Homo sapiens: one gene and its partners. The protein of the gene in region 4 purifies or fractionates together with the protein of the main gene of each other region. This does not show direct contact. Each region holds a gene or a part of one and is shown on either strand. Other genes may lie near its edges.

What was found.
Region 1: the proteins of KIAA0930 (region 4) and MCCC2 purify together in Homo sapiens (co-immunoprecipitation; one large-scale study listed by IntAct). This does not show direct contact.
Region 2: the proteins of KIAA0930 (region 4) and GPR85 purify together in Homo sapiens (co-immunoprecipitation; one large-scale study listed by IntAct). This does not show direct contact.
Region 3: the proteins of KIAA0930 (region 4) and DMXL2 purify together in Homo sapiens (co-immunoprecipitation; one large-scale study listed by IntAct). This does not show direct contact.

Annotation. Positions count from the first base shown.
Region 1 is NC_000005.10:71,653,338-71,660,248, reverse strand, and holds the end of MCCC2 (methylcrotonoyl-CoA carboxylase beta chain, mitochondrial isoform 1 precursor), read right to left. Parts: intron 3,507-6,911; coding exon 3,389-3,506; 3' UTR 1,543-3,388; downstream 1-1,542. UniProt on the Homo sapiens protein: Carboxyltransferase subunit of the 3-methylcrotonyl-CoA carboxylase, an enzyme that catalyzes the conversion of 3-methylcrotonyl-CoA to 3-methylglutaconyl-CoA, a critical step for leucine and isovaleric acid catabolism.
Region 2 is NC_000007.14:113,081,399-113,089,422, forward strand, and holds GPR85 (probable G-protein coupled receptor 85), read right to left. Parts: upstream 5,430-8,024; 5' UTR 4,924-5,429; intron 4,770-4,923; exon of another isoform or gene 4,712-4,769; 5' UTR 4,594-4,711; intron 3,494-4,593; 5' UTR 3,324-3,493; coding exon 2,211-3,323; 3' UTR 887-2,210; downstream 1-886. UniProt on the Homo sapiens protein: Orphan receptor.
Region 3 is NC_000015.10:51,482,611-51,490,088, reverse strand, and holds part of DMXL2 (dmX-like protein 2), read left to right. Parts: intron 1-1,443; coding exon 1,444-1,541; intron 1,542-1,969; coding exon 1,970-2,135; intron 2,136-3,751; coding exon 3,752-4,016; intron 4,017-7,478. UniProt on the Homo sapiens protein: May serve as a scaffold protein for MADD and RAB3GA on synaptic vesicles. Plays a role in the brain as a key controller of neuronal and endocrine homeostatic processes.
Region 4 is NC_000022.11:45,195,895-45,203,372, forward strand, and holds part of KIAA0930 (uncharacterized protein KIAA0930), read right to left. Parts: intron 7,291-7,478; coding exon 7,096-7,290; intron 5,126-7,095; exon of another isoform or gene 5,060-5,125; intron 4,142-5,059; coding exon 3,979-4,141; intron 2,055-3,978; coding exon 1,896-2,054; intron 1,323-1,895; coding exon 1,282-1,322; 3' UTR 1-1,281.

The DNA of each region.
Region 1 (6,911 bases), on a different chromosome or scaffold from region 4:
GTTATTATTAAGACCCCCTTTTTCTCACTCTCAAAAGCCCCAATGTGGATGGTAAGTTACACAGTCAACTTGATGGAATGTACATTTGCCTAGAAAGGTAAAAGGGGCATAGAAATTTCATTCATCCCTAAGAAAAACTTAGTCCTCAGGATCCTGATTCCAGATACAAGAGAATTTGAAGCACATAAAATAAAAGCACTATTTATTTATTTACCTATTTATTTATTTATTAAGTAGAGACAGGGTCTTGCTATGTTGCCCAGGCTGTTCTCCAACCACTGGGCTCAAGCAATCCTCCTGCCTCACCCTCCTAAAGTGCTGGGATTACAGGTGTTAAGCCAGGGTGCCCCGCTGAAACAAACTATTTTTAAGCGTTTAGTGGAAAGGCACAAAACGTTTTGTCGAAAATGATTAAAATCTATGTCATCATTAAATATTAATTGTACTTAATTGTAACATTTTAAGGGAAATGTTATGAATGACACTAGGCTATGATAACCTAGTTCATCTTCTTGCCATTTTTCCATATATGAAACTTCAGAACCAATCATTAGAAGATCACTAAGAAAAAAAAAATCGCCAAGACTCTTAGTGGAGATTTAATCTTCCATAAAACCAAACTCAATGCATTTTAGAACTAATGTGGCCTCTCAAAAATAATCTTATTAATGTATCATTCCAAAACCTGCTTTGATTTATCCCTGTGAAGGAAACATATGGCCTCTCTCTGGAGAGACATACACATAAGCATGTTGGCAAATGATGGTGTCACTCAAACACTCAATAGTGCCTTCTGCTGGTGCAGAAGTGTTTTTTTTTTTTTAACAAATTCGATTTGAAAATACTTTTCTTATAAACTGAAAAATAGAAGTAATCTTGTCTTTTTCATTCTTTAAGTACCAACAGGGGCAAATTTAGAGACTAACTTGTATATTTCTTCAAATTCCAAGTAGCTCATATTATCCTTGCTGGAATTCATATTTATGATAGTCAAAATGTTTAAAAAGTATTACCTATTTTGGTAAGACAATTATAAATGTTTATTGTTGGGTAAAATATACAAAATAGAGCAAGGCGTAGTGGTGCAAGCTTGTAGTCCCAGCTACTTGGGAGGCTGAAGCAGGAGGATTGCTTGAGCCTAGGAGTTCGAGTCCAGCCTGGGCAACATAGCAAGACCCTGCCTCTAGAAAAATAAGTTTTAAAAAATCCAATTCACTTAAATGTGGTTTTATTGATGGACAGTTTCTTCCCAGAAAAGCAAAAGCAGTCCTAAAATATCCATGAATCCTTGACTTGTTAATGGTTCCTACCAAAGGAATATTACCTAGTCTTTATATAGAAAATCATTTTGACATAGATGTGCATTTTCATTAAAATTTTAATATTACTATTTTAATATACTTAATGTATTGCTTCTGAAAATGTAACCTACCACTGAATTTGATCATCTATCTATATTCTCCCCACAAAAACTAAATTGACTTCCTGGTACACATTGAACATCACACACAAATGTTTAAAATACTAAATATCACACACAAATGTTTGAAATATTGACTTTATTAGGAAAACATTTGATAGTTCTATTCGGTCATATAATCAATCACCTAATTTTAAAACTATGTGGCCAGAGGACATCAATTACAATATGGATTTTTCATTCATTCAACGAATATTTGAGCACCTACAAGTGCCAGACATTGGAGGTACAGGGTAAACAGGAGGATCCTTGCTCTCACGGAGCTTACATTCTAGCAGGAGGACAATATTAATGTTTATAGGAAAATGATGAGTTTATGACAAAGGAAGTAGATAGTGTTTTACAAGAGCATAGAGTAGGGAAGCTAATCCAGCACAGGGAGGTCACAGAGACATCCCTAAGGAAGTGGAGTTTAAACTGAGAGAAGCAAGTGCTTAAACTGAAGGATGTGTTGAAGAAGAAGGGAGAGTAGAACAATTTGGGCAGAGGGAACCTTATAGACCCTAAGGTGGGAAGGTTCAAAGAACTGAAAGAGAGCTAGAACAGCTGGAGCCGTTCTCCGGTGTAAAGAGGAGTCAAAGAGATAAGATTAAAGATGTGAAGATTAAGATCTTGGTGGCATTCAGGGATTGGCACTTCTACAAGAAATCACTGAAGGGAGTAATCTGACATTACTTTTCACTTCAGGATGGCCATTCTAACTCCAGGGGGTAGACTGGACTAGGTAAGACTGGAGGCAGGTAGACCTCTTCTAAGGCCTGCGATAGTGAAAGACAAAAATAAGTGGGGAAATTCAGGGGATAGTGAAAATCAGTAGGACTTAATGAGCAAGCCAGAGGTTCCTCCACAACAACCAGTACAGATGTCCAGTAGACCTACTGGATATGCAGGCCTGCAGCTCAGGGGAGAGCTGGGTTAAGAACCGTCAAGGCAGTAATCATCTGCATTTAGATGGCGAGTGAAGCCATGACAGGGGCTGAAATGGCCCAGCAAGAATAAATCAAACCATGAGAAACACATACATTTAAGAATAAGGAGATGTGGTCAGGCGCGGTGGCTCACACCTGTAATCCCAGCACTTTGGGAGGCCGAGGCGGGTGGATCACTTGAGGTCAGTAGTTTGAGACCAGCCTGGGCAACCTAGTGAAATCCCGTCTCTGCTAAAAATACAGAACTTAGCTGGGTGTGGTGGTGCGTGCCTATAGTCCCAGCTGCTTGGGAGGCTGAGGCACAAGAATCGCTTGAACCCGGGAGGTGGAAGCTGCAGTGAGCCGAGATCACACCACCGCACTCCAGCCTGGGCAACAGAGAAACACCCTGTCTCAAAAAAAAAATAATAATAAGGAGATGTCATGGGCTCGGGGGAGGGGGAAATGGGGAGCGCTGTTGTTTGAATGGTATAGTTTCAGTTTGGGACTGAGAACAAATTCTGGAGATGAATGGTGGTGATGGCTGCACAGCAGTGTGAGGGCACTTTATGCCACTGAAGTAACAGATGCCTTTCAAAAATAAGCCCGCTAAAATATCACCAAGCATAACCAGCAAAACAATCATTTCAGTGAAAATACAACTTTATATTAATCATCTCAATAATACAGATTACAGAACTGAGTTTACAGATTACAGAACTTTTCATACTTTGTGGGTCAGAAAGGATAACCGTAAATTACTGTCTCCGCTTTATGGGTGGTAAAACTGAGCCACAGAGAAATTTCTCTAAGAAAATTTAAAAGGAATTGATGTTCATTAAATAAATATCCTCACTGATTTTTTTAAGGTAGAAAAGTACAATGCACAGTGTTAAAAAAATTACTGTAACAGCCTCATGTTCGAGAAGTCTAAAATTTTAAGGCTACTACATGTGTTAATTTTCAGTACATGTCCAACAGAAAACATCCTTTATTCCAGTTACATCCTGAAGATACCGAAGTCAGTCTTCTCTATTGGTGCGTTGAGGGCTGCACTAAAACTGAGACCCAAGACCAGTCTGGTGTCTGCTGGATCAATGATCCCATCATCCCATACCCTGACAAAAGAACAAAAAAAGAGTTATGAATTTACCACCAAACTACCATTTATACACTCTCCATGTGCAGAAATGCCAAGGAAGTTTTCCTTCAGGTAATATATGGATCTACTGATTAGCATCCATGTACCATAATCTCACAACAGAAACTACGTTCAAGACAGAGGGGGAAAACGTGGAAAAAAATGATATGACCTTCATCCCAGGCCACCACAGAATGTCATGTCAGGCTTAAGGCTTAAGGAACTACTTTTATAAGAGATCTCAAAGTAACCCCTAATTTGACAATACGTTTACTTATTTCAGGAAAAATTTTCCTATTCCTTTTCTTCCCACACAAATATATAAGCCAAGTTGGTGTATTCTGTCATTAATATGCAGAACCACATATACCCAGGTAATAACCTCAAACTTTACTGGAAAATGTATATTCCCCAACCCCCATCCAAACTCTTAAGAAACTATGAAAATTATTGAATAGGCTTCAGTACATTTTATCTTATTTATTATTATTATTATTTTTGAGATGGAGTCTCGCTCTGTCACCCAGGCTGGAGTGCAGTGCAGTGGCACGATCTCAGTTCACTGCAATCTCCGCCCTCTGGGTTCAAGCAATTCTCCTGCCTCAGCCTCCCTAGCAGCTGGTATTACAGGAGTGCGCTACCACACTTGGCTAATTTTTGTATTTGTAGAAGAGACGGGGTTTCGCCATGTTGGCCAGGCCAGTTTTGAACTCCTGACCTCAGGTGATCCGCCCACCTCAGCCTCCCAAAGTGCTGCGATTACAGGCGTGAGCCACCACACCCGGCCAGCTTCAGTACATTTTATTAATAAAATAGATACCTTCAAATGTAGGTCTTTATTTTTTGCTACAATAGGAAAAACAATAACTTTAAACTGCTTGCAGAAGAAACTTTTAAGTAGAAATTTTAGTTTCCTTCTCATTGACAACCTCAAATGTATAACGAAAAATGACTGAGAAATATTACTTTTTAAAGGTTATTAGTAGGTGGCAGTTTGCTTTTTTTATATAAACTCCCTTCGGTATCTGAACCTGGCATCAACTATTAAACCATTCTTACATTGACAGACATGAATCAAACCTTTGCTCATAAAACATTCATAATAGGGACCCTAAAGTATCAACACCCAATAAAAAGAAAGCCACTCTTGTCATCTGCAACCAGGTGAATTGATTACACTCCCTCTGAAGCCTGCAGCACAGCAAGCATGGTGATGAAGGGGCTGCTTAATAATGTTCATTAAAAAGACTGCCCCAGGTAAGAGGCACTAATGAAATGCCGGATAAAAGTTTGATTATAAAAACAACTGAGCAGAAGCAAATTGGCACGCTACATATGTAACCTATTAGGATTAAGGAAAACATTGTAGGTTTCAGTAACTGATAATAACAAGCTCTGTCTCTGAAAAGACAGATCTAGCCATGTTCAAACCTAAGCAGGCCAGGGAATTTTACTGTGAAGCTGAGATTTACTAAACCCAAGGAAGGTACCATAAACTGGCTTGGAAATCCTTTCAGCTTTGAAAGAAAGCTGCTGTCTCCATGCCACCAGCTGTTTCAACAGAAGGGTTAAACATCTACAGATCTGGCCAGGTGCAGTGGCTCATGCCTGTAATCCCAGTACTTTGGGAAGCCGAGGCGGGTGGATCACCTGAGGTTGGGAGTTCGAGACAAGCCTGACCAACATGGAGAAACCCCATCTCTATTAAAAATACAAAATTAGCCAGGCGTGGTGGCACACGCCTGTAATCCCAGCTACTCGGGAGGCTGAGGCAGGAGAATCCCTTGAACCCAGGAGGCGGAAGTTGCAGTGAGCCGAGATCATGCCATTGCACTCCAGCCTGGGCAACAAGAAACTCTGTCTCAAAAAAAAAAAAAAAAAATCTACAGATCCACAGAAAACTTTACTGTCTGTTAACATTTATTTCCAAAGATAAGTCTCTCTGGGCCATTTACTCTTCTGCCTTGAATGTAATCCATTAAAAAATAATAATAATGTTAGTATGAAAATAATAAAAGATGCAATCTTTCTCAAGAGATGATTTATCTTAGCCAGGGCTGAAAAACAAGCTAACAGCTCACACAAAATACACAATTTTTCAAACTTTAATATTTCAGCTGTCCCTGTGTATTTCAGTCAAAATCTTATGTGGAAAAAAAAAACTATAGAAAAGCTTAACAATATATATTTTATATTTCATCTCAAACCTCTTATACGGCTTTCTATTGCTTCTTTCCATTTACTGGCTACTATATGTCTGTTTACACGATGATAAAATCAGGAACATGTTTAGCTCTCAAAGACTATAAAATATTTTGTTCTTAATTAAATGAATCAAACCACCACAATAAAATATACCTGTAAATTTGTTTGTAAAAATATATATTCAGCAAAAAACCTTTAAAAATTCCCAAATATTGGCCAGCCACGATTACAGGTGGCTCACGCCTGTAATCCAAGCACTTTGGGAGGCCGAGGCAGGATCACTTGAGCTCAGGCATTCAAGACCAGCCTGGCCAACATGGTGAAACCCCATCTCTACAAAAAATACAAAAAAATTAGCCAGGTGTGGTGGCACATGTCTGTAGTCCCAGCTTTGGAGGCCGACGCAAGAGGATTGCTTGAGTCCGGGAGGCAGAGATTGCAGTGAGCTGAGATCACGTCACTGCACTCCAAACTGGGCAACAGAGTGAGACTCTGTCTTTAAAGAAAACAAAAACAAAAACACATACACACACCCAAATGGTATTATTTATCTCCTCAAACTAATTATGTTCTTGAAAATCAGTATGTTTTGTCTTTGTATCCACCAAGGAACCATTCAAATGATTGTAATGGACTCTAACTTTTGCTTTTTTTTTTTTTTTTTGAGATAGGGCCTTGTTCTGTCACCCAGGTTGGAGCACAGTGGCATGATCTCGGCTCACTGCAGCCTTGACCTCCCAGGTTCAACTGATCTGCTTGCCTCAGCCTTCTGAGTAGCTGGGACTACAGGTGCACACCATCACGCCTGGCTAATTTTTGTATATTTTTTGTAGAGACTGGGTCTCACCATGTTGCCCCGCTAGTTTCGAACTCCTGGGCTCAAGCAATCTGCCCGCCCTGGCCTCTCAAAATGCTGGGATTATAAGTGTGAGCCACTGTGCCTGGCCTGATTTTCTTTTCTCTCCCCTCTCCTCTCCAGTTTGCCTTCGCCAGCATAAATTACAACATAAGCTAATTTTACAAGATGCAGAAAGAGTTACTTTCTTTTTTCCATCTGCCCAAGGGATGAAAGGAAGACATGAAGCTTAGATTAGTCTTCGGAATGCAGAACACTAAAGTTGTTGAAGAAAGATGTGAAAGCAGGCACCAGCAGGTCTTCAGCTGGGACAGGCATGAT
Region 2 (8,024 bases), on a different chromosome or scaffold from region 4:
AGTTATTATCATCATTGCAATTACGTTTCTACTATAAATTTTTTTGAGTTACAATCACAATGTTATCAGAACATCTTTTGATAACATTTCCTTTATTTTAGATAATGATTTCAGTACCAAGGAGACTTTATTGCTAGATCCAACTCACTGTTGTGCATTAAATTTTGTCTCAGATCTAATCAACTTTGGTGTAAAGTAAAAATGAGGTCAGAATGCTCACTAATTCATGGCTTGAGCTGTCCTTATAAGAGCAAAACTGAATAGTTGCATATATCATTGAAACATTTCATTGATTTATTTTCCTTATTTATATTGATATTCTCTTTACAGAAGTACTATAGCAATATGGAATTCTGTGTTATTAGATTCCTAATCTTAATTATCAAATACCAAAAAAAAATAAACTTCACAAAAACCAACCAATAAACAAAACAACAGAAAGCAAACAAAAATAATAACTTTTTCTAGTTTTGTCATAATGTTAGTGTAAACCATTCTTCTTACAAGTTGTATATTTAGAACCCCAAATTTCTATGGTACTATGCTCCAAATTAAAGTGTGATGTTTATATTAAAATTCTGAGCCAATTAACTAAGCAGGTACACATCTCTAAATACTACTGGCATTTAAGAATAATAGAGGGATGATTATAATAAACTACCAAATAATGCTTTTACAGATAATATTATGTCAGTTTATCAGCATTATGTTGATTATCATTCATACATTTCCAGTCTGGAATGTAGTAGCTACAAGAATCAAAAAGCAAAACCATAATAAAGCTAGTCTTCCTAGTTTGTGCTTGCCTCCCAAATTAAAAAAAAAGTTGTTATGTGCCAAAAATGTAAAACTTATTTCAAGAAAATTAACAGGCTACACGGGTAAATTTTGGCAAATGCAACTTTATATTGAAGTTCACACATCTGTATCTTAAAGAATGAGACTCACAGACTCTAATGTATTTCTAAAATACCAGAAATCATAATATAAGCTTTCACAAGTTAAAACTGAAATAATTTAAATTACCAATACACTGAATGTGCAGAAAGTATAAACAAGACTGTGCCTTCAGTAGAATAAATGCTTCACAAATTGTGCAGGATGTCATACTAAGGCTGTGGTCTCCCCTTGACAGCTGACTTAAAATATAAACATACATCAACTGCCTGCTTCTTAGAACAGTTTAGAAAGGGTAGCACACCGTAGAAGAAAATCTCATTATTTCAGTGATGTGCACTTTAAGTTTCAAACCATGTGAGAAAAAAGGAAAAAGTAATAAATGATCTTCCATGCACTTTTAGATGCATGACCATGACCAGTTACTGATTTGATTTCCCTTGGCTATTTGCTCCAGTGCTAAATAAGATGAAGGATACTAGATAACCCTTTAAGGCAACATGTATTTATTCTGCATTATTAGAACTGCTCAGTTGTGACAGGCTGGTACCATTAATGTTGCCTCCCAGACCAATATCTAGCATTTGTAAAATATAAATGAATTGGAAAAACTTTATACCAAATCAACAAAAACCACATAATACAGTTCAATGCTAGCAATCTTACTAGTAGATGAGGAAAGTGGTATTTAGAAATAGCAATGTATTAATACAAAAAAAGTAAACTCTAATTGGAACCAATATACTGCTTTGGAATGCTCCCCAGAACTTACAAGGCGGTTTTTAAAGTGTGATATTCCAATAATTCATTGGCACGTCTTTAGTGGATTACAGTACTTTAAGTCCCCAAATATTTTAGTCTTTGCAAAACAATAGTAGTATGAAATGTTTTAAAGTCTTCAAACTTCTAAAATTAGTTTTTATCAACACATTTACCTCATGTCAACTTAATTTATTAAGATGTCCAATGCTAATTGTTTTTTGATGTTTTTTCATATGTAGTGACATACAGAGCATTTAGCACTGATACTTAGCACCTGCTACTTTCATTATCTAGTTTTTGACCACATAAAGAAACTTAGGGCAGTGGTTCAGTCCCTTCTTAATTACAAACCTTTGCTGGCAGTCAGCAGGATCACTCTGAGATTTAAAATAGGATTATAGGTGAACTATTGCAAAGACTGCAGAATGTTGCCCAAATCCTTAAAACTGCTGATTCCATTCTTGAATTTCTTCTCAAAATATGGCTATGGGCCACAATTGCTCAGCAGAGAAGGTTAGTTTTCACAAGGCTAAAGATTTACAGATGCTCCCTCATATAACACAGTAAGGTTCCCTTGGTAACCTGGATTTTCTGCAGTAAAGAAGGGTTGTGCTGAAACAGCGCCTCAGCTCCCTGTTTGAGAAAATGCAGACAAAAGGATTGATTCCTGCTTGGGCAAAACTCATCCAGACAGCAGCTGTTAGAAATCCCCCTGGTACTACAGGCCCTCTTGCAAAAACTCTCCAATAACAGGCCACCAGGTAGGGGCCCCACAAGGTTAGAAACAGAAAAGTCATTATATAGAACATTCTGCTGATTCTTTTCTCCATTTTGAACTCGTCTAAGACCAATAGCCTTCTTCTGCCTGTGGTGTTTGCATTTTGCCTGATGCCCAGCAAGGTGGGTGGTGTGGGACCCCTTCCAAATCCTGCTAGCCAATTGGCAGCTGCCTGGCCACTGGCTCCAGGACCATGAAAAGTCCAGTTCTGGCTGACTGCTGCTACAAACTGGACTGGCTTCATTTTTCTTCGATCGTGGACGAAAAATATCAGCTTGAGGTAGACAAGCTGTGTGGCTAGGAGGATGAGAGCAAGAAGCAGCATAAATCCTAAGGAATCATTAGCCCTGAAGGAGCGGTGTTGGAAGGTGCATTGATCTTCCTCCCTAATGAATGAGTAAGTGCCCACGTCTAAAACCGGGGGAAATGCCATGGCCACAGACAGAGTCCACACCATACAGATCACAGCCAGACACGTCCAAAAGGTCAGCCTCTTTGTATAGAAGCGGTGATGGGCGATAGCTAAATATCTGGTGACACTGATGCAGAAGAGCATGAAAGCAGTGTGGAAACAGGACAAAACCCCCAGAAAGGCAATCACTTTGCAAGTCAGAGTCCCATAAGTCCAGGTAGAACCATTTTTGACAGAGTTGAACACAAATGGGAAACAAATTGCAGATCTGAGGATATCTGAACAGCAAAGATCCAACAGGAAGTAGTAAGGTGCTCTATGCAAGGTCTTATCTTTCACTAGCAAAATGGAGATCAGGAGGTTGCCCACCACGCTGACTCCTATTATGAAACCCAAGGAAGTCAGTTTCAGAAAGGCTGTTAGAGGCGAGAGATTTTGCAAAATGTTGTCAGCTGCATGGCTATAGTTCGCCATAGATGGATGGAGGATAAGGATACAGCCTCAGTCAAGTCTCATGATCTAGATATAAGAACAAGGAAAAGATAGATCCATACATTTTACTGAAAATATAATCCACAAAGAGAACTGATCTGATCTGCAGTCATGCTTCCTCTTTTCTTCCACTTGTTTTGCCATCAGAATATCTGAAAAAAAAAAAAAAAAAAACCTATCAGTTCTTAAGTTAACAAGCAATGATGTCAGACAGTGCTAACAAAGCTGTTCACTTATGGGGAAGCAAATAAAGTTTTAATTTTGAATACTAATATTTGCTTTACTAAATATTTTTGCTCGAGATTTCAGAGAATTGGCTTGTTTAGTTTTTCAAGCTAAGTGAATTTTAAAATGTCCCTATTTTGGACAATATACATTTGATAGGGTAACTTTAGGAGAGAAGGAATAAAATGTCCCATTCTTGTAAAATATGCCAGTCCAGGAATTAACCACTAGAATTGCAATGGAATCTACAAGATTGCTATTAGGAGGCAGAGACACTACCTACATTTATTTGAGATCTATTAGTATCTGTCAGTGTTTCACAGGCAGCTTCTCTGTTTGATGTGGGTCCAAAGAACCCGTGCAAAATATATCTTAAGTGCCACTATTCATGCTGCATAAGAGTATTTGTTGATTCATCTTAAAGCAAAATTTCAAAATTAACTTCAAAATTAATAGGAACTTACTTGTCCCAAGATTTGATGTGATTTAATCATTTGTCTTTCCCTCTCCACCCTACCCCCCATTTCTGGCAAATCTTTTAAGCCCACATGATTATTAAAATGGTTAATGTAAATATTGGACAGGGAAACACACCCAGAGGAATAATGCACTTCCATTTGTAAACCTTGGCTGCCTGGATTCAAATGAATATAACATGAACCTGTATTTCTTGGGCAATTAAGCCTTTCCCATTTACACTGATAACCTTTGTTGCAAATCACAAGTGGCTGCTTTTTAAAACAAAATGCACATTGTCTCGCAGGTGCCTGGACCACACCAGGGAAATCGGCTTCCTCTGTTATTCCCACCAAGCGTGTTTCTTTTGCCACTTCTCACTGGCCCGGAATATGCTGGTGGAAGCCCAGGCAAAACTGCGTTCGATGATTTTAATTTCCCCACCGGTACATCCTCGGGTAAATACCGATCGCATCATGCAACATTACGAAACCTGAAATCCGCCACCCCTGGATTTATAATGGGGGGAGGGTGGAGGAGGGGGAGAGGGAGAGAGACATGCATTACATACGCGAAGATGGGGAGAGAGATTGCTTCTGTGCTGCAAAGGAACCGTTCCCGGTGATTCGCAGTCTGATATTCCTCAGTCTTGTAAGGCTTTCCAGAAATGGAGCTCTCAGTAAGCCCTACTGAAGATGCATTGTCTGAATGTACTTCCATTATGCAGTTTATTGTCACAAAACACATACACACACACACACACACACACACACAGAGACACACACACACACACACACACACACAACCTGAGGGAGGGCTCTTTCTCGGTGAACCTGCAGTTTCATCAACACTGTGCATTCCCCCACATCCCCCAAACTTAACCAAGAGTATATCCTCCTACCTGTTGGTGTTGGATATCCCGACAGACTATAGCTTCTTTCTATAAATTGCTGATTTTTTTCTTTTTTTCTTTTTCTTTTTTTTTTTTTTTTTTTTGTTTTTTGTTTTTTTTTTTTTTTTTTTTGCCTTAGTGCCTTGACTGAGCATCCAGGCAGGGCTCGGCGGCGCCTGCGCGCTGGAGCCTCCTTGAGCTCCAGCCGCGTCCTCCCCTGTCGCAGCGGCACCGTCTCCCCCAGTAACGCAGGGGCCGCGGCGGCGGCGGCTGCGGTGGCGAGGGCGGCGGCGGGGCTGCTTCAGCCTCTGTGGAACCAGCAGGAACCCCTACCTGACTCCAGAGCTGGCTGGGTTTATTGACTGCCCTGTCCAATCCAACTGGCAGCATTAAGCTTTTGTCCCTTCGTGGCTGCTTCTGAACTTTTCCCTCCCCGCATTTGTAGTGGGGGGCTGGAAAGGCCCTTTCAGGACCTCAGGCCCATCCTCTTCCCAAAGGCAGCGCACGAGGAAGTCACAGTGCCCGTGACGCCCGCCCCCTCCCTCAGCTTCCCGGAACCCTAACCTTCCCCAGACACTTTCTTCCCTTTTCTTTTAGGGTGGTCCAAACCACCGGAGGCTTCTTTTATATATTTATTTTTAAGTGATGTCTCCAGCTAACCTTTAAATTTGCAGGTTAGCTGGAAAAAGACAAGAAAAGAATGGGAAAAAAGAAAAAAAGTTATTTATTTATTTATTTATCTTTTTCCCACAGTTAAAAATCTTTTCAATGGGGAAGAAGGGAAGGCACGTTAGGGCAGCTCTCTCTTTGTTAGTCATCTTCTATTCTCCAATGCACGCAAATATGCGTAAAAGTAGGGAGAAAGCTAAGTTCAGAGGACAACTACAATATGATTTACATTCAGTCTACCTTAAAGGATGTCACTAAAGAATCAGGCTTATAAAATGTTTAAATGGCTATTCCTGGCATTCCACCCCACCAAGCAACAGTATTCCTTTTCCCTTCTTACAAGTTCCGCTGACCAATGATGGGTGATGTCAAAGCAGTTATGTGTACGAGTTTCCTTTTTTCCCCTTTGTTATTACAGATGAAAAATACTAGAAATATAACAAATACGTAAAACTTACACCAGTCCAAACGGTCGGATGATACCACAGACACCACAAAGCCTGACACGTGGGTGCTTAGGAATGCCTCTAGAATCATGCATTTTCTTATTTTACCATTTCCGAAGAGTTTTGTTTGTGGAGGTGATATAAAATTTTAAGCAACAACTTCCCAGTTCTCCTACCCAAAACTAGCAGACACGCTTTCATTAATTCCCAATGTAAAACGTCTGCTTCTTTTTCTGCATGCTTTTTGCTTTATAATAATCTGTTAATGAAACAAAAAATAAAAATCTTCTCTACAGTAATAATCTGATCTTGAGACAGCAGTAAAATACCTCATTGCTGGGTGGTGAGATTGTGACATTCAGGGGAACTCAGGCCAATCAGCATACAGATAATATGGGTTAATTTACATACTGTATTTCTATTGGATGAGCCGAGGTAAAGCCTTATCTTGATGTCACAGTCGTTACACAAAGCCCTATGTTGGTAATACTGAAATGATGTTAAATTTCCCTGATTTGTTCTTGAATTTCCTACGTCCATTTAAATACATGGATAATAGTTTGTTTTTTTCGAAAAGAATATACACAAGGCACTAAACTTTGGCATTCCCTTAACCTAGAAAAATCAATCCTACAGCCATGCTGGAAGTAACTTGAGGGCATTTCCATTCAAATAAAACATTCCACTTTTTGCAAAGCAAATGAATTCAAAACTCAAAACCATGTGGTGGTTTGCAACTTCTAAGTAAAATGTCAAATTCGTTTTTATGAAACTACAAATCACTTCAACTTGTGCTTTTTTGCTTCCCAATAAATGCTTCAATGTACTTTGCAAAGAGTTATTTCCTGAATTTTTACAGTTTTAAAAAATGTATGGAATAAGAGGCTTAAGTTTGCTGAAGATTCATGATTGGTCAGATGTTAGGTTGTACAGATTAGGGAAAAGCTATTTTAAAGTAAATTAAAAGAGTCACTGCACTGCCAGGCCATGAAGCAGTAATATACTCTGCCAAAAGTTATAGGGCCAAGATCCAAGGGTTTTAACTAGTCTTATTCTTTAAGCAGATATTGATTCCTTAAAAATAAGGGAGAGGGTATATGTGTATGCAATATTCTTTCATATCCACATCTCAGGGTATAGTAAAGCTATTTTTTTCCTTTGCAGTTGAGCACAGTTACATCCACTAATTCTTCAGCTTTTCCAGCTGTTGGATAAGAATGTCATTTTCTTGCCTCACAAGGGGACTCAAGAAATTAATGAGATATTTTCTATCTAGCTCATTAACTCTACTGGAGAAAACATTGGAAGCTACATCTTTCATCAGCAGGGCTTTAAAAAATATGTTTAATAGCTGACAAAAGTTTCATATCATCTACAAGTTCTCAAATGTAAAGTTATTGCTTCAAATTGTTTAGATCATAGGCTTAGTTGGTCTTAACTAATTTCTTTTTTTTTTATCCCCTACATCACCAAACCCAGAAAATTTGATTTTCAGGTTAAGAGTAAAAGAACAAAGCAAATACAACAAAACTATATGCTCTAATCCTTGGGTTTGAAGGGTTCTGAAGATTTACAAACTGTTGGAATATTACATGTACTATATTGATCAGTGTATTAGGAAAACTGATATAATTTGCTTAATTTGGTTCTTATAAAAAGTACATACCATTTTATTTTAAAAACCAATGACCTTGCTTTCAAAATTAATCTATTTCAGATTTTTGCCAACTGATGCATAGTATCATGATCAGCAAAAACAGTGTTTTTTTCTGTGCATTGTTTACATGAAAGTGTGTGTCAGGAAATAACACTTGGTAATTGCAGAGAATAATAGACTAGAATAAACATTCTAAATAAAAGATTTTTAGTAATTCATTTCAAATGACATGTCTTCTGCTTAAAGCATAAAACGTGTGTCTTTGGTGCTCTCAACTGTTACCAAAATTTAAAGTTGTATATGAAAAAGAGCCTTTTTAAAGTTTTCTTTAAAACTTT
Region 3 (7,478 bases), on a different chromosome or scaffold from region 4:
ACAGGAAAAGTTAATTGTTAAAGGATATAAATGATACAGTTTCTACATTAAATGTTTTATATTCCAAAGCACTGGATAAAAGAGGACATACTTTATCTGAAATGTTTCAGATGTATCCCACAAAGATTTTACTTCTTGTCAACATGTGTCTTGTCATTATGATTATCTGTGATAATATACACATGATTTATTTCCACAAGTAATTTATTTCTTAAAATTAAATCAAAGGGATATGTACATTTTCTGCCTCAAAATGTATATTATAAATCAGCTGAATACAAATAAAATTCCTCTAAAAATTATCTAACATATTGAAGCACTAAGTTAAATGATAGGGGGCAGACAACACAATTAAAAGGGGGAAGGGAAAAGAGTATTGAGAGTAAAGCATTTTCTTTTTTCTTTTTCTTTCTTTCTTTCTTTTTTTTTTCTTTGAGACAGAGTCTTGCACTGTCGCCCAGGCTGGATTGCAATGGTGTGATTTCGGCTCACTGCAACCTCCTCTTCCTGGGTTGAAGCAATTCTCCCAACCAGCCTCCAAGTAGCTGGGACTACAGGCGTGCGCCACCATGCCTGGCTAATTTTTGTAGTATTAGTAGAGACGGGGTTTCACCACGTTGGCCAGACTGCCCTCGAACTCCTGACCTCAAGTGATCTGCCTGTCTCGGCCTCCCAAAATGCTGGGATTACAGGCATGAACCACTGCGTCCGGCCCGAGAGTAAAGCATTTTCATGATGTAATTTTAGATGTCTTTTCCCTTTCTCCCATACCTTAGTATTATAGCTTCCTGCTTTGCCATCAATGTGAGCTAATTAATAAAACATCCACTGTTGTTTTGTCATTATGCCTTTCAACTTAATGATTTGCAGAGGCTATATCTCAGCATCTTGGAAAAATAAGGTATGGCCTATATGCTCTTATGTTTAAGACAGTATGATTGCATACAATATAACATGTTGAATTTTCAAGAAAAAGCTCACATCTATTGAATATTCTGCCTTCTTTATTGCTTTCTATGTTAGTTTCAGTTCTACGTGGTTTCTATTCCCTTTTCTAACCCTTACTGTGTGACTGTAGGCAATTCACTTAACCTTTCTGTCTCAGTCACTTTATCTATAAAATGGGAATAATGATAGTGCCTCATGGTTTGTAGTGATGCAATAAGATAACAAAAGGTGCATAGACTCGTGCCCAGGACGTGGTAAATAGTCAATAAGTGCTGGCTGTAATTAGGATTTTTACCATAATTACTGGCTTGCGAATGGTTATCTCTAGGAGCATGTATTAATATTATAACCTACTGGAGATTGTGAAACAGAACCAACTTTTTCTGTCTCCACAGTTTCTATCAGCCATGGAAGTAGCAGGGGAACATTATTGTTGATTAATTGATTGTAATTCTTATGTCAAATTGTGAATTTAATATTTTATTTATCATTTAGGTTGCCAAAGCTTCTTTTCAAAGGAACAATGATGCCTTAGATGCTGCACTATTCTACCTTTCAATGAAGAAGAAAGCAGTAGTGTGGGGTCTGTTTAGGTAAGTTGCCTTGACACTTAACGTGATTCAACAGAATGAAGATTGTGCTGTGAGTAAGAAACCTAATGCTTTTGAAAATAATTAGGTATATGAGCTTCATCAAATCCACTTCTATGCGACCTGGTTCCTTTAGCTGAAAAAAATGGGTAAAATATCTTTTCAGCTTAATCTAGAGGATGGGATGTTTTAAAAGTTGATAAAAGCACTTTGCAAAGTAAAAAATGCTGTTTCCTATTTATGTATACATAAGGCATTATTGACCTTCCTTCTTAGAAGAAGTGAAGAGATGCTTGATAACAAATGCCTGTCCTTGAAGTTATTGTTCTTCTTTTAGATTTCTGTTTGAGGTTTTTATTTTATATTATTATACATTCTGTAGAACATTTTAAATTTGGTTTAACCACTTTATGTTTATGCTCGGTCCCCAGGTCACAGCATGATGAAAAAATGACAACATTTTTCAGCCACAACTTTAATGAAGATAGATGGCGAAAAGCTGCTTTGAAAAATGCTTTTTCCTTACTTGGAAAACAACGCTTTGAACAATCGGCTGCTTTTTTCTTGCTAGCTGGTTCATTGAAAGATGCCATAGAGGTATAAATAAGAAAACACACTATATAATACTTGTAAAAGATTGAAAACCTAAGAAGGTTGTAGAGGAGATTGTAACTTTTGGTCATATGTTTGTTAGGACACAGAATAACTACAGAGGTTGCTGTACTTAAAATAGTGGCACTGTGGTAAAGGAAAATATGAATAAATTCAAGGGAGAAACAAATGAAAAATTTCAGGCTGGGCATGGTGGCTCACGCCTGTAATCCCAGCTCTTTGGGAGGCCAGGGAAGGTAGATCACCTGAGGTCAGGAGTTCAAGACCAGCCTGGCCAACATAGCAAAACTCTATCTCTACTAAAAATACAAAAATTAGCCAGGTGTGGTGGCACATACCTATAGTCCCAGCTACTCGGGAGGCTGAGGCAAGAGAATCACTTGAACCCGAGAGGCGGAGGTTGCAGTGAGGTGAGATTGTGCCACTACACTCCAGCCTGGGCGACAGAGTGAGACTCCATCTCAAAAAGAAAAAAAGAAAAATTTCATATATGGCACATTGCATTTCAAGACTATGTGTAAAATATATGAAAAAAATGCTGAAAAATAGTTTATGAATGTCTTCTTCCAGACCATCTTGTGATTCTGAACTGTTTAAAGTACATAGGTCACAACCTCCTTATTCTGTGCAGAAAGGCAGATACATTAAGCTGTTTTTTTAAATGAAATTCATAAATAAGGAACTGAAACTCCAGTTTGTACTGTTTTATAATAGTTTATAATATTAGAATATTATATTAGAAAACGATGTGAGGAGGTAAAACTTCCCACTTTTTGATATGTAATCCTAGCAGCTGATTATGAGAGTAATTACAAATGTTTGTGTTTACTTCTGATATCTTCCTCTTAGATTACTATCATGAACAATATGAACAGGTAAAGGACAAATACAGTTGGGAATAATATATGATAGAAAAACAGGAAATATTCAATTAAGTGAAAGTACTTTAGTATTTTAAATTTAGAATTAGTTGGGTTTTTTTTTACAATTATCCCAGGCATATGAGTTTCTTTTTTTAAATAACAAATACTTAAGATTTTAAAATTGGAAGTTTAGCTTAGAAGATATTCAAGCAAAGAGAAGTGTTGACTGAGAGATGCTCATATTGCCTAAATGACCTCAAATGCTCAGAACTGGTAGTTGCATTAGAATACAGGCTCCCAGAGACTATGAATAGAACATATGGCTGTATTTCATAATTTATTTACTATTTAAATATGAGGCAGATAGTAATAATTATGATTATGCAGAAATATGTTTGGAAATTAAGAGGAAGTGGTATATAAATTCTAGTGTCATATATAGTATTTAATTTAAAAATGAATGTTATTTAAGTTGATCTTAAGTCTGAGATGATATTAATATACTTTGTTTCATGCTTATTTTATAAATGATCTGTCTAGTTTGGAAGCTACTGGGTTCCAACCTGTTACTCTTTTTGCTATTCTTTAATCTCCTATCAATCATTTAACTACCCTTCACTGTCCCTTCGCCCACCATTAGGATATAAATGGTAGATAATTTCAGGGTATTGATGGGATATTTCATCTCTCTAAATAATTATCATTAAGTAAGATAAGTATTAATATTTAAATTTGCAGGTATGTCTTGAAAAAATGGAAGATATTCAGCTAGCCATGGTTATTGCCCGTTTATATGAATCTGAATTTGAGACTTCATCCACTTATATATCCATCCTAAATCAGAAGATTTTGGGTTGCCAAAAGGATGGCTCAGGATTCAGTTGCAAAAGATTACATCCTGATCCTTTCCTGCGTAGTCTTGCCTATTGGGTAATGAAAGATTACACCCGAGCCTTGGACACATTACTGGAACAAACACCAAAGGAGGATGATGAACATCAAGGTAGGACGTTTTGTGGATTTCTTTTTTTTCTTTTTTAAAGGAAGAGATACTTTCTGAACTAATGTTCACTTAGATTAAGAAAAATCATTACCAGATTTGCTTTTCAACTTTGAGAATTTATTATTAAAATTTCTTGTGTGTCTAAAGGATTAGATAGGATTACCATCCTATTCTAATTACGTATATATTTAACAAGCATACAAAATGTTTGCCACATTCTGTAGCTCTTTTTACATAATCATATAGCCATTTTTTTTAAATGGAAATTTTGGCTGTTACACGTATTGGTTTGTCACATGGGCCTGGAAAAACTTTATGCCTCTGTGGTAAATTTTCTTTTTTCCTTGTTATCCTAAATAATTTAGATATTACAAGCACTTAAAGGATATTTATCAGCATTGTTTTCAATAATTTGAAAGGAATGGAACATTTTAAGTTTTTGTCAATAGAATAGTTAAATACGTTTTAATATATCCACATATAGAAACAGTGTGTCATTAAAAATTGAGGTAGATACATATGTTAATATGTGCTGTATTTTTAAGTGAAAAAAAGTAAGATGCACAGCAGTGTGGTTCTTGTTGCATTTGGCATATGTATGTTGTACAAACATGCACCTGAATGTGCACACATGTTATGTCTGCCTCCTCCATTTCCTTTGGTTGTTTCCTGAAACAAATCATAAGAAATGAAATACTGGTCATTGGTCACTGGCTACCTTTTGGGAATAAAAATGAGGAGATCCTTGTCTTTGACTTTTGACAACTTGACCATGTGCCTTGGAGAGGATCTTTTTAGGTTGAATCTATTTGGGAGTATTTGAACACCCTGGACCTAGATGCCTATCTCTTTCCCAAGACTTGGGAATTTTGGGCTGTTACTTTATTAAATGTGTTTTCCTCACCTTTTCCCTTTTCTTCTTCTTCTGGAATGCCCATAATATGAATATTTGTTTACTTAATAGTGTCCCATAAATCCTGTAGGCTTTCTTCATTCTTTTTTTTCTGTTCCTCCTTCTTCCTTTTTTTTTTTTTTTTTGGTTTGCCTGAGTTATTTCAAAAGACCTGTTTTCAAGTTCAGAAATTCTTTCTTCTGCTCGATCTAGTCTGTTGTTGAAGCTCTTGATTATATTTTTTATTTCATTCATTGAATTTTTTAGCTCTAGTATTTCTGTTTGGTTCTTTTGTATGATATCTATCTCCTTGGTGAATTTCAAATTCACATCATGTATTCTTTGCCTGATTTCATTTAGTTGTATATCTGTATTCTTTTGTATCTGAATGAGTTTCCTTAAGACTATGATTTCCTTAAGAATTATTTTTCTGGCATTTCATGTTTCCTTGTGACTAAGGTCTGTTACTGGAGAATTAGTATTTTCCTTTCCATTCTTTTCCTTTGGTGTCATATTTCCTTGCTTTCTCATGGTTGGTGTGTTTCTACATTGATTTCTATGTATCTGGCAGAAAAAGTTGCCTCTTCTAATTTTATGGAGTAGGTTTCATAGGGAAAGACTTGTTACTATGAATAGGTCCTGAGGTGTTGGTTTGGTGGAGTGCATTGGTTAGATGGATACAGTAGTGTAGTCTCCATGTAGCTTCTTCACCTGTAATCCACATTAGTGGCATTTGCAATCCTCTCAGTTGCCTAGGCTGAAAGAGTTTGCGGTGATGGCCATGTAGCTTTGCCAGGTGGGCTCGCTGGGCAGTTTTTCAGGTTGGGGTGCATATGTGCACACAATGGGTCAGCCAGCTTAGGGTCTGGTTGGCTGGGATTGGGGCCACAGGTCTGTTACTCTGGCCAGGAGTGTGGGTACATGGTCACTTGGCCAGCCTGGAGGTGTGCCTGCCAGAAGCAGCCCACAGGGCTCATATGTGGCCTCACGGCTACTCAGCTGGCCTGGGGTTTTGTCTGTTAGGGGTGGGGATAAGGCTATTTCTCAGGCCCATGACACGATTGCATGGCTGCTCAGCTGGCCTGGGGGTGTTTCTGCAGGTGTTGCCCATGGGTTATTTGTATACCTGTGATGCAGGTGCAGGGCTGCTCAGCTGGTCTGGTACTATGTTAGCTGGGGTGGCAGTGAGGCTGCTCCTCAGGCCTGAGGTGTGGGCATAAGGCTGCTCAGCTGGCATGGGGGCGTTTCTGTTAGGGGCTCATGGGGCTATTTCTCAGGTCTGAGACTGGTGCAAGGCTGTTCAGCTGGCTAAGGGGTGTGCACACTGGGAGCAGCCTGCAGGGCTGTTTGACCAGGCTGGGATGTGTCCACCAGGGATAGCCCACAGGGCCGTGGAAGTGGGCTCTTGGCTGCTTGGCTGGCCTGGTGGTGTGCTGCCAGGGGCGGCTCGAAGGACTATTTCTCAGGCGTTGATTGCAGGCGCAGGGCCTTTGGCAGGCCAGAACTCTGAGTGCAGGGAGCAGGGGCGCTGCACGCTGTTTCTGAGGTCCTGAGTGTGGGCATGTAGCTGCTTTGCTGGCCTGGGGGCATATCAGCTGCTCGTAGGCTTGGAGACCTCTCCCATTTGGGGGAGGGTATGTATGTAGTGGTTTGGCTGGCTCAAGGGCAGGTTCACCCTGGGCAAGACTGCCAGATTGTTTCTCTGACCAAAAGTGTGATGGTAGGGGTTGATTTCCCTGCCATGCAGGACCAAAGTCATAGCCAGTCATGGTCCTAGGCTCTGCATAGCTGGGATTGTAGCATTCAGCTACCCATGTAGGCTTGGAATGAAGACGGGTCCCCAGTGTTGGAGAGGTACAGTGACTCCTGGCCCCCAGAGCAGTGCGCATGCCAGAGGTGACTGGTCTCAAGATAGTGCTTGTGCTGCAGCAGCTTGGCTCACTGGCGGTAGGTGGAGGGCACACACCTTATGCTCCTAATCTGGGTCAGTGCCGTTGCGTGAACTTCTGACGTCTCTCCAAACTGGACACAGGGCTTGCAAGTACTATGGGATTCTTCTGTTGTAAGGACTGTAGATGTTTGTGGTGGCCATGAGGGCTGATGGGGATCTTCTGTTTACCTTTTCCCCTCTGCAATGAGAAGTTCTTCCTGACTGTGGGCAGATCCAGTCTGGGTGGGGGAGATAGGGCTGCAGAGGCCGGGTACCTCCACACTGCTCTCCTAGACTTGCAGTCACCACAGGTGCATCTCCACTCCCCTGCTGCACTCTAGTGCTCTCCCTTTGACACTCCAGTCAAATCTTAGCTGTTTATTCATTGCCTTGGTCCTTTCTTTTCGGAGGATGAATGCCAGGTGTGTCTAGCAGCCATCTTGCTGGCATCATTCTCTTGGTTTATTTTTATGGATGCTCAGATTGTTCTTTCACAAATGGGAACTTCTTCAGGTTTCTGAATTCTTCTGGCATTATTTCTTGATAGTTTTCTTGCTTTCTGGTACTACAAAATGTTTAAGGGTCATCTTGTACATTTCCTGCCCCAGACCTGGAAATGACCATTCCTCCAAAGCATTCT
Region 4 (7,478 bases):
TGTTCCCAGAGCCCAAAGAATAAACAGATGGGAGAACAAGACCCTCCTCTTCCTTTTCCCCCACAGAGAAGATCCCTAAACACATCACCGGAACCCCTCAAATATTCCTGGGAACTTCAAACAAAAAAACATAGCAACAAAGAGACCCAGCTTCCAGTTTATTCCCAGTTGGGTAGGGGACAGGCCTGCTCTCGGGGAGGGTACCGTGCATCCTTGCAGATGGAAACGCCTTCATGCTGGACCAGGCCGAGGGCAGGCCTGGGGCTGGGCAGCTGCTCACACGAACCAATGGGGGTGCCCATGTGAGCCTCTGAGCAACTCCTCTGCCTCAGTGAGCTGGTCTGAGAGATGGGACCAACACACGCCGTCAAAGGAAGTGAGTTCTAGGAAACCAGGGAAGATGAAAAGACACCCCCGCCCCCAGAAGACGGGGTCCCACCTAGAACCTTCCTGGGAGGATGCCAGCCCCACCCCACATCAGACACCCTTTGGCAGATATCCTGTTCTGCCTGGCTACCGAGGCCTCCCGACTACCCTCAGAATCCAAATTCTGCAGGTTCCTCCGTGCGAGGCCCAGCGTGGGATGTCCCAGGTTGGAGGTGTGCGTGTTGGCGGTGTTCTTTGGCTGGAAGCAAAAGGCCGTTCTGGCGGGATCGGGGCCGTCTGCTCAGCTGGAGGCCTTTCTGGAACTGGGCGTGGGTGAGGTATTCCCAGCCCAGGGCAAAGCCATCAAACTTCTCGTGTTCCCATCTCCTATTAGAACAAAGTGGTAAACTGGGGAGGATGAGCTGGGACTGACTCGGGTGCTGAAGTTCATCCGCACGGCATTCCAGAATCTTCCACCGGCTTTCCTCAAGAACATGTGGACAGTCCAATGCACTGAGTGCCCTGGCTGGGTGGTTCCGCCTGCTGCTGGGGGGACGTGAACATAGACCCGCCGCTCTGGCCCCGCTCTGGGCATCAGCTGCTCCTTCCGCTCTCTCTCATGGCCGCTCGGCATCTCTAGTCCTCTTTGGGTGCAGAGGGCTCTCCAGAGATGGGTGGGGGGCGATGGGCGGGGGGCACAGGGCGGAGCAGCGCCAGCAGGGGAGGGAAGAGGCACTTCAGTTTGGGCTGGTGTTCGTGGAGTCGGCCCCGGCCCCGGGAGTCGAGTGGCCTCGCCTGGCTGCGGCTCCAGCACTGGCGTGCCATCGCAGACCCCGGTGGCGGTGGACAGGTAGGCACTTGGCAGCACTCCGAGGGCTGGGCCCGGCCGGGGCTCTGCGCAGGCTCCGCACGCGGCTAGGTCATCAGGATGGGCTTCTGCCGAACTTCCAGGATGTCTAGGGCCGGCAGGAGGGAAGCAGGTGAAACAGTAACCCTCAACAGCGGTGAGTGCTATGGTCACGGCAGTGCCACTTCTGAAGGAAGCCCGCCTCAGCCACTCATGCATCTCCTCTCCAGGCCTCACAGACTGCAGAGGAGACGTGTCTCCACCATCCTCACCCTGCAGACTGGGAAATGGGCTCGCAGCAACGGCACACCCTGCAGGGCCTCAGGTGCAAGCTGGTGTGGGGGCCAGAGCCACTGCCTGTCACAGCTGCTGCAGGCCTGGGTCAGCGAGGTGGCCTGAGAGCCTCCCCTCGCCCGTGAGTAACACACACCTGGGCATCTGTGGCCACTCAAGAGGGGACAGCAGGTGCGCCAGAAAGGTGAACAAAGGGAGGACTTCAGCTCTGGGAAAGCTACGGCTCCACCCAAAGTCTGAGACAAAGAGGCCAAGAGCCCTGCAAAGAAACCCAACCAACCGACAGGACAGGGCGGGATGACTCCGGGTGGCTCACAAGTACCAAGGCCCTGGAGGCAGAGCTGGCTGTGAGAAGGTGCGGCTGCTTCCCCACATCCGCCAGCATTACCTGTTAAAATCCGATGCAGCGGCAACGTGACGTAGGTTAAGTGTGCATAGAGAAGGAAGTTTCCATCTGCTCTGTTCAGCTTCAGCCAGGACCCGACCAGGGACCGTCCTGTGCCCGACAGGGACCGAGACCGCAGGTTGGTTGCATTGTGCAGATCGGCTGGAGGAAAGAAGGCCAGGTCAAGGCCCCCACAGCATGGGACGCGGCGGGAGCAGCAGGAGGCCAGCTCCCAGTCCAGGCTGAGGCCAAACTCTGCTGAGGCCAGGACGCTCCTTACCAACACCCCCACACCAGCACCCACACGCTCCAGAGCTGCTGCCTCCTCGCCTGTAACACCCCTCCCTGCTTCCTCTGGCCCAGACCCAGGCCTCCAACTCCAGGAAGACTTTGGCCACCCCCCTCATCTCTCTCTTCTCTGTCACAAGCTTAGTCTCCTCCGGGGGTTCTGGCACACACACTGTGTAATTCTCTGCTTCTGCAGGCCCTGTCCCTGGAACTAGGCACCGCCACCTGCAGAGCATGGGAGCAGCAAGGCTGAGCCGACCTGCACCATTACCCAGTCCTGCGGTCCAGGCTGGGGGAACCTGCCCCAGAGAGGCAGACTAGGGCAGTGATCAGTACTTCTTACTGATTCGGGAACGGGCCCAGGTGGGGAAGGGGCTTGCCCAAGTTCACACAAGAGCAGGTCGAGGCCAGTGCTGGAGTCCCTGACCCAGGCCAGGGCCTTGAGCAGGTGGGACACCCCTGCTTCTTGGTCCCAGTGGTCAGGACAAAGACTGCCACCTCTTCTGATCAATGCTGCAGCCCTGCTCCCTGCTGGGGGAGGTGCTCAGTGGGAGTTGTCAGCGAATCCTTCACGTCGTTTTTTTTTGTTTGTTTTGAGATGGAATCTCACTCTTGCCCAGGCTCGAGTGCAGTGGCACGATCTCGGCTCACCGCAACCTCTGCCTCCCAGGTTCAAGAGATTCTCCTGCCTCAGCCTCCTGAGTAGCTGGGATTACAGGCGCCCACCACCATGCCCGGCTAATTTTTTGTATTTTTAGTAGAGACAGGGTTTCACCATGTTGGCCAGGCTGGTCTCGAACTCCTGACCTCAGGTGATCCACCCGCCTCGGTCTCGCTAAGTGCTGGAATTACAGGGGTGAGCCACTGTGCCTGGCCAATCCTTCACTTCCATACACTCAACAGACACGCACACAGTGCGGAGCCAGGCGCCCGCTGGGTCCTGAGGATGACAGTGAGGAAGGCACGTGGTCCATGCCAGCAGAGCATGGCAGAACTTCCCAACCTGTCTGTGACGGCCACGCCTGTCCCCAGGAGCCATTTCCCACAGAGACTGCTGAGTGGCATTTTAAATATGCTAATCTGATTGTGTCACTCCCTTGCTTAAAACCCCTCAGAGGCCTCCCTGGGGGCTCTGGGAACAACTCCTGTATTCTGGAAGGTCACTGAGCGAGGACAGGGAGCAGGCACGGGTGCTCAGGAGAGAGTGCAGACTGTGCCTGGGCAGGACTAAGGGGCATGGTAACACCCAGATACAGACAACCGGAGTCCAGGGGACAGGGGCACAGGAAGGCCCCGGGGGTAGGCTGCACGAGGTGGCGACTGTGTCACCAAAGAGCACGTGGTTCTGGGAGGCTGCACAGAGCCAGGAGGGCCAGGCCTCACCCTGAGGGCGAGCTGGCCCAAGGCAGCGCAAGGGAGGGAAGCCCTCCTCTCTCCCGCCACACCCCGTGTGTGCGGAGCCATCAGATCACCCATCCGCTTTCTTCCTTAAGCAGGCTGAAAAGCCTTAGAAAGGTGGGAAATCCCCTGAAACTGACCAACTGCTGCACATCTGCGCTCCAAGCACTCTGCCAAGGAGACGCCTGAGCCCACCAGGACGGGACCCCCAGAGGCAGCCATTTCTGCCTGTCCCCAGCTCTACCCCTCAGCTCCTGGAGGGCTGCCTGGCACATGGCACCCACTCTCTAAGTGCTGCTGAATGAACAAATGAATGAATGAATAAATGAATGAATGACTGGTCTGGATCAAGAAGAGACTGAAGGGCACGGGGACCCTAGGGCACGGAGTGGGGGGTCACCTCCACCGTCGTCCTCCCGGAAGAACTCCTCGCTGTCGTTGGCCGAGTGCGACTTCTTCATCTCAGCGATCCGGTTCCGGGGCACCTTCCTCTTGAGGGATGGGGAGAAGAAGGCAGGCCGGTTGTTCCGTTCTGGGGTGGGGGGTGTGCTGAAGGAGGTCACCTGGGAACAAGCAGCCAAAGTCACCAGAGTAGCAGAACAGCCCCCTCCCCGGGGGTCCCAACGCCCCTCCTATCCCACCCTCAAACAACCTGACACAGCTCCCAGGGAAGAGGCCGCTGGCCCAGGAGGACCCAGGCCCAGCCGGCCCGTGCTAGGTGGGGCCTAGAGACTGGAAGATGCGTTCCAGCCCAGGGGCCAGCAGGACACCTGGCCACCAGTGCTACCCGAGGAGGGGCCAGGCTGCTGCCGCAAATGGCAGAAAGACCCCCCTCCTCTGGGCCTCAAACAGTGGGTAGGGGGTGTTCAAGCACAAAGTAACAACAGCTGCTGACGCTGAGTGAGCACTGGCCCCACACACAGACCCTCTGAGCCTCCAGCTCCGTGAGACAGGGGCTAGCGTCAGCCCATCTGACACATGGGGAAACTAAGGCAGGGACCGAGACCCTGGCTTGCCTGTGGTCACCAAGCAGGACGGCAGCAGCCCTGTCTTCTGTCCCCCAGGGCCACGCTCCTCATCCTACTTCTCAGGGCTGACGTGGCCCCATCCCTCTCATTCCCAGCACCCTTCACAGGAAATACTGTGCTAAGTAGCTCTATGCCTCTGTCTTCTCCCCACTTCTAATCACGTTTGGTTCTGTTCACCAAACATTCACACCCACTCAGGGCCAGGCAGGCACAGCACTAAGGACAGACAGGCACATTGCAGGTCCCTGCCCTCAAGGAGCTCACAGTCTGCTGGGGTGACAGACTCAGAGAGTGACAACCATAGACAGCATGCTGGCTGTGGAGACAGAGAAAGAGAAGCACAGGATACATGAAGCACAGAGGCAAAAGGGATCCACAGCCTGGGAAATCAGGGAAGGCTTCCTGGAGGAGATGCCGCTGGAGCTGGGTCTTGAAGGACGAGTAGGAGTTCGCCAGGTGAAGAAGGGGGGGAAGGGCGTTCCAGCCAGAGGGAACTTGGCCCATCTCCTCCCTCCTCCCCATGCCAACAATAATCTGAGGAGCAGGATGAGCTGGGACTGAGACTTCGGGAGCCCCGTCAGCCTCCTCGTCACGGCTCCGACATCCACCAAAGTCCTGGCAGCTGCTGGGCTCCAGACGGTGTTCCCACAAGCCGGGGAAGGTTTTTAAAAGATAAAAGAAACAAACAGCAGCAACCACAATACACAGAGTCAGCATGTGTCACGCACTGGCTCCAGACGACCCCGCCAGAGAAGGAGACAGGTAATAGCAGGCGCACAGGCGGCAGTCCCCAGGGGCCAGCCCTGCTGCTGACCCTGTGTGACCCTAGCACATCCCTCCTCCTGAATCCCAGGGCTGCCCAGCTGCTAAGGCACCAGGGACTTTCACACCCCTCACAGCCACTCCCGCTGGACAGATGGGAAAACCAAGGCTCAGGCAGGTCTAGTGACCTGTAGTCACTCAGCCCTCAGGCTGTGGCTGGAGGTGGCACCCGGGTTTGTCCAGCCCAGAGCTCGGGCCACATCTTCGTAAGGACTTTCACACACACATTTTGTCAGAGTCCCAGGGCATAATTTAGGACCAGGGAGAAGAACCAGGCCCTTTATCTCGGAAACAAACTCAGAAATATAAACCACCTCATTCCAAAGACAAGAGAGGCCCCTGCCTGGAATTCTCACCCATCTTTGCAAAAAATAGCACTTGCTGTCTTTGGCTTGCAAAACACATTCATTGCAGAAGATACCTCCCCCCCAAAAAAAGATATACAGAAGAGAAAGAAAACCAACATCTGACCACCCGGAGATATGCATGATTCAGATCTTTCTCGAACTAAAAGTATAACAAACGCACACTCCCTCATCTCAGGCATGCCTGCGGTAATGCATCGTTTACATTCCCACGCCTCTGCTTTCCAAGTAGGTCAACAGCAACTACTGCAGCTGCCACCTGGGAATCCTCCTGAGGGCCAAGCCCCGGATTCCTCAAAGCCTCCCAAATACTGAAGGAGCAGGTATCCTCGTGCCCTGTTTCTAGATGAGAAAACTGAGGCTTGGAGAGGAAAAGAGACACACCCAAGGTTATGAGAGCAGCAGAGCAGGATTCTGGCTGTGGGTGGCGTCTCTCCTGGACAATGGCTGGGCAAGACTGCCCCTGGACCTGTGCCAAGGGCACCCCCCTGCCCAGCACACCTGTACTCTTCCAAGAACTACAGCTCTGGGCAGTCCCTCTGGAAGAACCAGGTAGAGCAAAGCAGCCAGTGGGCTGGAGACCTTCTCCTGCCTGTGCCCCACCAAAGGCTTCTGGGAACAAAGCTGCTGCTGACCTCAGCCTCCCGCCCTGGGGAAGGAGAGTGGCCTAGGCAGAGCAGGGCCCCAAGCCCAGTGCTATCCCAAGAGACCTTGTGACCTGGGGCAAGCTGGCAAGTCTGGTTTCCGGCTGTGCGAGGCAGGAACGCCTCTCCTGCAGCAGAACCTCCTACAAACCGCGGGGCAAAGAGCTGGGTGGCCTAGGCCTCTGCATGCGCTGGCTGACCCTCAGTCACCATCATCCCCATCTGACTCACCGGGGAAGGCCGGCCACGTGCCCACGCTCACCCAGCAGGTCCACCCAGGCAGGCGCCAGGGCCGGGCCTGGGTCCCCAGCCAGTCTCTTCTGCCCACTGGCTCTGTGGACTCAGCCTGGCTTTGTGGCATCTCAGGGAGGCAGAAAGAGCTCTGGCCCAGCACCAGCCTGCGGTGTGACCTTGGCCAGGCACAGCCCTCCAGGTCTGCAAGGCAGGAACGCCTCCCCTGCGGCAGTGCCTCCTACAAACCGCTAGGCAAAGAGAAGGGCTGGGTGGTCCGGGCCTCCGCACGCTCGGCACCTCGGCCTGCGCACTGGTGGTTGGGGATGACAACACCTATGTCCCCAGGGGGCCGTGAGCACGGGGGAGACGGTGGAAAGTGAACTTGACGGATGGGAGCCCCCGCCCCCAGCTGTGCAGCCCTTACCCGCTCGTGCATGGGCGAAGCTGGGCTGGAGTCCTCTTCAGTCCCACAGGGGGATGTGTCACCTGTAGACACTCGGCTGACCGCCATCTCGGCGTGGCCCTTGCCCTGGGGGCCCTTCATGCGCACAAACTCCATGTTGCTGTACTTGTAGAAGCCAAACGACATCTTCTGTGCCATGCGGGCGGCCACGCTCACCTGGGGGCCGGCGCGGGGCAGCCTGAGTCAGGGAGGTGGCGATGGCTCCATGGGGCCCCTCCCCAGGACATGAACAGCCAGGGCGACCATCCCTCAAGGAGCGGGGGCTGCCCGGGAGGGAGCGTCTGAGCTGGCAGGCGGGGCAGCTGGAATGGACCCACATCTCTGCCTGGTGCCCCTCCTGGTGC